2 linked regions of the Homo sapiens genome follow. The protein of the gene in region 2 purifies or fractionates together with the protein of the main gene of each other region. This does not show direct contact. Each region holds a gene or a part of one and is shown on either strand. Other genes may lie near its edges.

Region 1 (3,812 bases), on a different chromosome or scaffold from region 2:
GAACTTCTGGTCTCGTGATCCTTCCTTCTTGGCCTCTGAACCACAGTGCCTGGCCACAACAGCCTTTAAAAAAAGAGAAAACAAAAATAAGAAAGGAAAAGACTGTTACACTGTTTAGTTCAGCCATGGAACGTGTTTAAAAGTCTTAATAGAAATGGTGAATATAACTGAGAAAGGGAGGGTGGGATTTGTTAGTGCGTCCAGTGGGTAAAAAGGAGTATGTGCAAGAATAAGTTATAGTGGGAAGTCAGTAGGTGATGACTTAAGCAGGTAGCATTATTGATGGACCTGAATTAGATAAGCTCTTTAAAAATCTGAAATTGTAATGTTTCTAATACTTAAATCATAGTGGATATTTTTATTTACCTTCATATTCAGGAATGGGAGTCTTAATAGTAGATAATTTTTGCAAGGATTTTGTAAATTTATCTTAGTCAAGTGAAGCAGGATTTCATTCCCACGAGTAGTTTGTTTATTTTTTTGAGATGGAGATTCACTTTTGTCGCCCAGGCTGGAATGCAGTGGTGCGATCTCGGCTCACTGCAATCTCCATCTCCCGCATTCAGTCTCCTGCCTCAGCCTCCAGAGTAGCTGGGATTATAGACGCCCACCACTACGCCCAGCTAATTTTTTGTGTTTTTAGTAGAGATGGGGTTTCACCATGTTGGCCAGGCTGGTCTCAAACTCCTGACCTCAGGTGATCCATGCGCCTCGGCTGCCCAAAGTGGTGGGATTACAGGCATGAGCCATTGTGCCTGGCCAAGTTTTTGTTGTTTTTGTTTTGTTTGTTTGTTTTTGAGACGGAGTCTCCCTCTGTTGCCCAGGCTGGTATGCAGTGGCAAGATCTCAGCTCACTGCAACCTCCACCTTCAGGGTTCAAGTGATTCTTCTGTCTCAGCCTCCCGAGTAGCTGGGATTACAGGCGTGTGCCACCACACAAGCCAGGGGTAATTTCAAGGGTTGTCACAGTATATATCCCACATATGTATTCTTTCCATATATGAACAAATTGTTAGCACCCTTTTTAAAGAACCTTAAAACTTTTTAGTAGCTCTTTTAAAAAAGTTGCTTAGTCATGTTATAGTCTAATACAGGAACTCAGCTCTGTAATCATTAGCAAGCCTTTCACATTAAAGATTTTTGGATGGGTATTGGTACGCAGATGGGTCAGTAACAGTTTCTTGTAGCAAAATGGTGAGACAGGCACAAAATTCTACCAGGCATGTTTGGTGTTGTGTTTGCTTTTTAATACAAACGAATAAAAACATTTTGCTGTTGGATTTCGCTCAAAAGGTCTTATCTGGTTAACAAAAGATTTGCCGGCTGGGCACGGTGGCTCATGCCTGTAATCCCAGCACTTTGGGAGGCCGAGGCAGGCGGATCACCTGAGGTCAGTAGTATGAGACCAGCCTGGCCAACATGGTGAAACCCTGTCGCCACTAAAAATACAAAAATTAGCCAGGTGTGGTGGCACGTGCCTGTAATCCCAGCTGCTTGGGAGGTGGAGGTTGCAGTGAGCAGAGATCATGCCACTGGACTCCAGCCTGGGTGACAGAGCAAGACTCAGTCTCAAAAAAAAAAAAAAAAAGATTTGCCATTTTTATGAGTGTAGAGCAATGGCCTGTCAGATATCATAAGGCTTAAAAATTTTTCTTCTTTTTTTAAAGACCAGGGTATTACTCTATCGCCCAGCCTGGTCTCAAACTCCTGAGCTTAAGCCATCCCAATCCCAAAGTGCTAGGATTACAGGCGATTCTCCTGCCTCAGCCTCAGCCTCCTGAGTAGCTGAGATTATAAGCACCTGCCACCACGCCCGGCTAATTTTTGTATTTTTAGTAGAAACAGGGTTTCACCATGTTGGTCAGGCTGGTCTCAAACTCCTGACCTCAAGTGATCCACCGCCTTGGCCTCCCAAAGTGCTGGGATTACAGGCGTGAACCACCACGCCTGGCCTAAAAAATATTTCTGGCAAACAGCTGGGCATGGTGGCACATGCCTGTGGTTCTAGCTACCTGAGAGACTAAGGCAAGAGAATTGCTTGAGCCTGGGAGGTCAAGGCCGAAGTGAGCTGTGATTGCACCACTGCACTTCAACCTGGGCGACAGAGTGAGACCCTGTCTCAAAAAATAATATCTGTCATGTTAAGCTGTTCCATGGAATTACATTGTCTTTTTATAATGGGCACACTAATGAAAGAATGAACACTTTCCTAATTCTATTCTCAGGCAAATTAAGACTAGTTTCTTCATGTCCATATGACCTTCATTGCTATGGTTGCTTGTACTGCACATTTCCTGTTAAACGGGCTTTCTCATTGCATTTGGAGAGCTGCGTAGTATTCCCAAAATCTTCTAGGTATGCTTGTAATTGGCAGTCATTCCAGTTTTTTGTGAGTGCTATAAGAGTAACATCACTCACTGTGTCCCGACAGACAGGCTTTTAAATTTCTATGCCAATTAGATTGGTAAAATTATGCTCTTCTTTTTTTTTAAGTGTTTCTTAAGGTTAAAAATCTGCACATTTTATAGACAAAGTATCCCATTGAATTTCTGTAATCATTGATTAGTTAATGGTTTACCTTGGTTTATGGACCTTTGAACATTTTTTTGCCTATTTTTCTTTAAGTAATTTGTAAATACATAGTATAATGACCAATTTTTGTTTCATATATAGCATAATATACCTATCATTTATCTGGGTGTGTCAATATAGATTATTTTGAAAGAAACTAAAAGTTGGTGTACAATATTAATTAAAAATGTGGTCTTCATGAGAAAAAGTGTGAGCTTTGTAATTTTTATGAGTAGGTGGGTACTATTGTGGATTAATCGTAACTTTTTTGTTAAATGATAGATCTGAGTGGGACATACTTTTGAAGGATGTGCAATGTTCAATCATAAGTGTGACAAAAACTGACAAGCAGGAAGCTTATGTACTCAGGTAAGTCCTGTAAAACAAGTGTTAGGTAGCTAATTTCAGTCCTAATCATAATGTGAAACAGTTAAGTTCCTCTCAGTTGTAGTTCTGGGGGTTTTTTTGTTTTGTTTTGTTTTTTTGAGACGGAGTTTCAGTCACCCAGGCTGGAGTGCAATGGCGCCATGTCAGCTCACTGCAACCTCCGCCTCCTTGGTTCAAGCAATTCTCCGGCCTAAGCCTCCTGAGGAGCTGGGATTACAGGCACCTTCCATCATGCCCGGCTAATTTTTGTATTTTTAGTAGAGACGGGGTTTCACCATGTTGGCCAGGCTGGTCTTGAACTCCTGACCTCAGGTGATCCATCCACCTCGGCCTCCCAAAGTGCTGGGATTATACACGTGAGCCACCGCGCCCAGCCTTTTTTTTACATTATTCTTAAAAATATGGTATAAAAGGAAACATTTAGTGTAACGTGGATGTTTCTAGGACATAGGTTTTGAAGCCTCACCGGACAGTTCAAGGTGTTTGCCGTCTTTTCCTCCCAATTGGTAAAGAAGGACCTCTTAATTAGAAGTTCAGGCAAAGGGAAAGTTAGCTTCTCTATACAAATACAGTTGTCTAATTGGTATATAAAAGCTCATCACCTTTTTTGTAGTTGCAGAGTTAATTTATTCCATAAATACTTTTAATGCTTATAGTATATATTGTGATGGGCCTTGCTGGGGGATACTGGACTAAACAGCCCCTCCCCCCCTTTTTTTTTCTGAGGCGGAGTCTCAGTCTGTCCAGGCTGGAGTGCATTGGCGCAATCTCCTCTCACTGCAACCTCTGCCGCCCAGGTTCAAGCGATTTTCTTGCCTCAGCCTCCCAAGTAGCTGGTATTACAGGCGCCTGCC
Region 2 (3,812 bases):
CTCCAGCCTCCACTCTCCCATGGCCACAGTCTGTGTTCCTTCTGCCTGCTCACTGGCACCACTGGCACATGTCCCAGCCCCACAGTGCTGCCCTCAGCCCGTGGCCCAGCACTTGGCTTGTGCAGCCTGCTACCTTGGGGTCCCACTTTGGCTCAGCTCCCCAAGCTGGCACACAGCCCCAGTCCATGGTGGTGGTATCTGGTACATGAGACCGCTGCTAGAGTACTCAACAAGCAGGTATCATGGGCACTGCCTGCCCCATCGCCAGGGAGAGGACAGTGTCAGGGATGAGAAGCGAGACAAAGCAGGTGGTGGCGCCCTAGCTAAGGCACAACTACAGGTGGGTAGAGGAAGGCCTGGGGCCCAGAGCAGCACCCAGAGTACCACCTCCAGGTACCAGGTACCAGACAGAAGTGAGACCCCCACCTTCCCCACAGGAAGCAGGCAGGTGATGGGGAGGATGGATAGCCTCACCCATGGGGACCAGGCGACTTGGGCCCAAGCCGTGCTGTCCCCTCCCCGGCACCAGCCTGTCCTGCGTGTGGCCTGGCTCACCTGGCAGGATCTCGTTCCAGTTGACACGGATATAGCGGTCCCGGTCGGCCCGCGTGTGCTCGTGCCAGAAGCCCAGCACATGCATGAGCTCATGAAGGACAATGCCCCGGCCCTTCTGGAGACACGTGGGCGCCAGGGAGACCACCTGCATCCCTCCACTGCGCCCCACACTCGAGAAGCACCTGCAGGGTGATGAGAGCAAGTGGGGTAAGTGCCAGCCCAGATCCCTCCGGACATACAGACCTGGGCTCTCCCTCCCCACACAACACAAGATAGACAAACTCCCAACAGGCAGGCCCCACTCTGGGCTCTAGTCTCAGGTTCACCATTCTCCAGGCCCCTTTACTGCCTGGACTTCTGTGAAATGGCCATACCGGACCCCCATCACCAGCCTGGGCTGCAGGGAGGCTGCAGAAACTGATATATGAACACAGAGGACAGAAGCAGCTTACTAAGTGAGCACACCCTCCTGGTCAGCCCTAAGCCAAGGCTTTCACACAAATTGCCTCAGGCCCCTGACAAGCTAGGAAGCAGGTATCGCCACCACTCGCACCCCAGAGGGGACAGAAGAGGCTCAGAAGTTAGGGGACTTGCCAGGACTCAGTGACTCACGCACTGTCTGCCCCGCAAAACCTCCTCTCCTCACCACCTCATGGAGTCCCCCGGGAGAGGAGGGCTTTGTAAATGGAGGGTCTAGCACCGTTCCCATCCCTTTCCCACATTCCGCCCTGGAGGTCCAGCTCACACTTGGCAGACCCCTCAGGGTGGGCAGGGAGACTGAGCCCTGGAGGATGGGCCCAGGAATACATTTTAGACAATGGCCAAGTTAATTCCGGGCTGAACGCAGAAGCGAGCTGAGATACGCATCCTGGCCCCGGCACTTACCCATACATGGGGATGATGGAAATGAAGTCTCTCTGGTCCTGATAGGTGACAAACCTGATGCACGTGGAACGTTCAAACTCCGCAAGAGCCTCCAGGATGACCTGGCGGCTGGGCTCATCTGGAAGACACCACCTGGCTGAGCCCCCAGAGCCCTGGTGGTCTTTGAGCTCTACCTGAGGGTCTGGGAGCAGAGCTCTGAACTCACTCTCCCAAAATAGCATCAAGAAAGGGCAGCTTAGTGGTGCCAGGAAGAAGCTGGGCCCCAGACAGACCCTGGCTGTGTGGCCTTGGGTAGGTCACTGTCCTCTGCACCGCATGGTCTCAAGGGGAACCAGATCCCCACTCGACATACCTTCCCATCAGATTTTAACCCTCCCTACTCAGGAGACCTTCAGCAACAGAAGGGCATCTGTGGACAGGTTCTTCGGGTGGGGAGGTGGAAGGGATGTGATGGTGTAAGAGGAAAAGGGAAGAGAGGAACACCTGCCGCATTAGGAAGAAGGGGCTGAGGCAGGGAGGGAGCGCGCCATGCTCACTCACCGTACTTGCTGGAGAGCAGGAAGGGGACCTCCACGACACCACTACCACCCATGGGCCATTTGTTGCTGGTTGCTGACAGCAGTCGGAAGGGACTCTGAGGAGAGAGCAGCAGTTCAACCCCTGGGGACAGAGGCCACCCAAGCTTTGTGCCCCAAGGGTACCACACCCCAGGGCACCAGAACCCCAAAGATGTGGGAGTCAGGACCTGTGTGCATGGGAATGGGGGACCATTAGAGATGGGACAGAGCTGTGGAAGGCAAGGGGCCAGCTACATGAACCTTGATGCACAAGACAGTCCCTTGGCCTATGATGAAAGAATTTCAATCTCAAGCAAACAAGAGATTAGTCCCTGAGGATGTTGGCTAGGAGGCCCAGCACCCCAGGGTGCCCTGAATCAGAAGGGCTTGGGCCAGCAGCCCCACTCCAGCATGTTGACAGTGCCCCTTCCAGAGGGGAACAGCCACCAGGCTTCCCTGAACATGGGACGATCATGGGAACAGAGCCATATGGAGTGAAAGTGAGGCAGCACCCTGGCCTCGGCTGCTTACTTCTGCTCTCCAGCAACCAGAGCCCTTCGGTGCCCAGGCTCCACAGCACCCCAGCGTGCCTGTGCCATCGGCTGGAGGCATTTGATTCTGCTCCGGGTGGTCGCACACCACCTGCCCGAGCACTCACTGCATAACCCAGAGGGTCTGCCCTGCCCCCGGAGTTCCTGGGCAGCCTTGGGCCAGCCTCTGGCTCTCCTGCCCAGCCAGAGGCTGTGCCGTCAGTGGCAGCCTCCAACAGGACAGTCTTGCCTTCCCCTGGGTCACTGTCCTATTCAGGAGCCTTCTGCCATTCGCAGTTGCCTGAAACACATGGCTGCCATCCTGGGCACAGTGTTCCCTTTTCTGTTAGCAAGGCGCCCCAATCCCCAGCAACCTTCTCCCTTCAGATGCGGCCCCTCGACCACAGCCAAGATGGTCAGGCTCAACATCACTCCTTGTTCCACCATCCCTAGGTCGCCACTGCCACCAGGCCCTTTATCTGCCACTGGCCACTCTGCCAACCCTTGCTCATCTCTTCCTTTATCTGAGCACCTCCCGAGTGCTGAGCACCTCCCCTGGGCAGGGTACCAAGCTGGGTCAAGTGTTCAAACCTCCTCCTTCAGGAAGCCCTCTCAGGCTGACTGTGCCAGCACTTCAGATACCAGCCTTCCTTAGCATTCAGGCTGGCTTATTCCTATTTCCTAACAGAACAGTCGCTCTGACCTTGACAAAAAGAGGCATCTACCAAGCTATGTATGTCCCTCACACATCAGGCCCCATGGCATCCAGGGTGGGCTCAGAGGACCTGTCGCCAACTGTGGGCTTATCCGCACCCACACACGTCAGTGTGTGCACTCACCGGCCGGATGATGTCCCCCTCGATGAGGAAGCTGCTCTCTGGGGTTTCTTCCAGGATGAGCCCTGGGAAAGGAAGAAGGACGTGTTGGCCCATGTCCCCCAGAACACTGACTCGTGGGACAGGCCAAGCAAATCCCTACTTACTTAAGTCTATTCTTGTGTCTTTCCTAGTGGATTGTTACTTTTATAAGTTCTTAAATAGCCTGATAAAAGTATAGGTCATCGGCTCTCCGAGCCTGGGTGTTTAGTTAAGTCATTAGTTGATGTTTGAGAATGTCAGCCACCCTGTGCGGACTGTCTGCAGGTGTGAGGGGGCTGGAGGACAAAGACAAAGGAGACTGAGGCTTGGGGTCTGTCCCTCTCCTGACTGTGGAGCTAGAGGTTCCCTGAGCACTGAGCCTGCGTGGCCTCAGGGAAGTCACACAGTCCCTGAGTGTGCAAGGCTTC

Evidence for each region.
Region 1: the proteins of ASTL (region 2) and AMD1 purify together in Homo sapiens (affinity purification with mass spectrometry, with the first as the bait; one large-scale study listed by BioGRID). This does not show direct contact.

Annotation. Positions count from the first base shown.
Region 1 is NC_000006.12:110,884,652-110,888,463, forward strand, and holds part of AMD1 (S-adenosylmethionine decarboxylase proenzyme), read left to right. Parts: intron 1-2,853; coding exon 2,854-2,940; intron 2,941-3,684; exon of another isoform or gene 3,685-3,755; intron 3,756-3,812.
Region 2 is NC_000002.12:96,131,985-96,135,796, forward strand, and holds part of ASTL (astacin-like metalloendopeptidase precursor), read right to left. Parts: intron 3,429-3,812; coding exon 3,367-3,428; intron 2,075-3,366; coding exon 1,981-2,074; intron 1,559-1,980; coding exon 1,441-1,558; intron 738-1,440; coding exon 556-737; intron 1-555.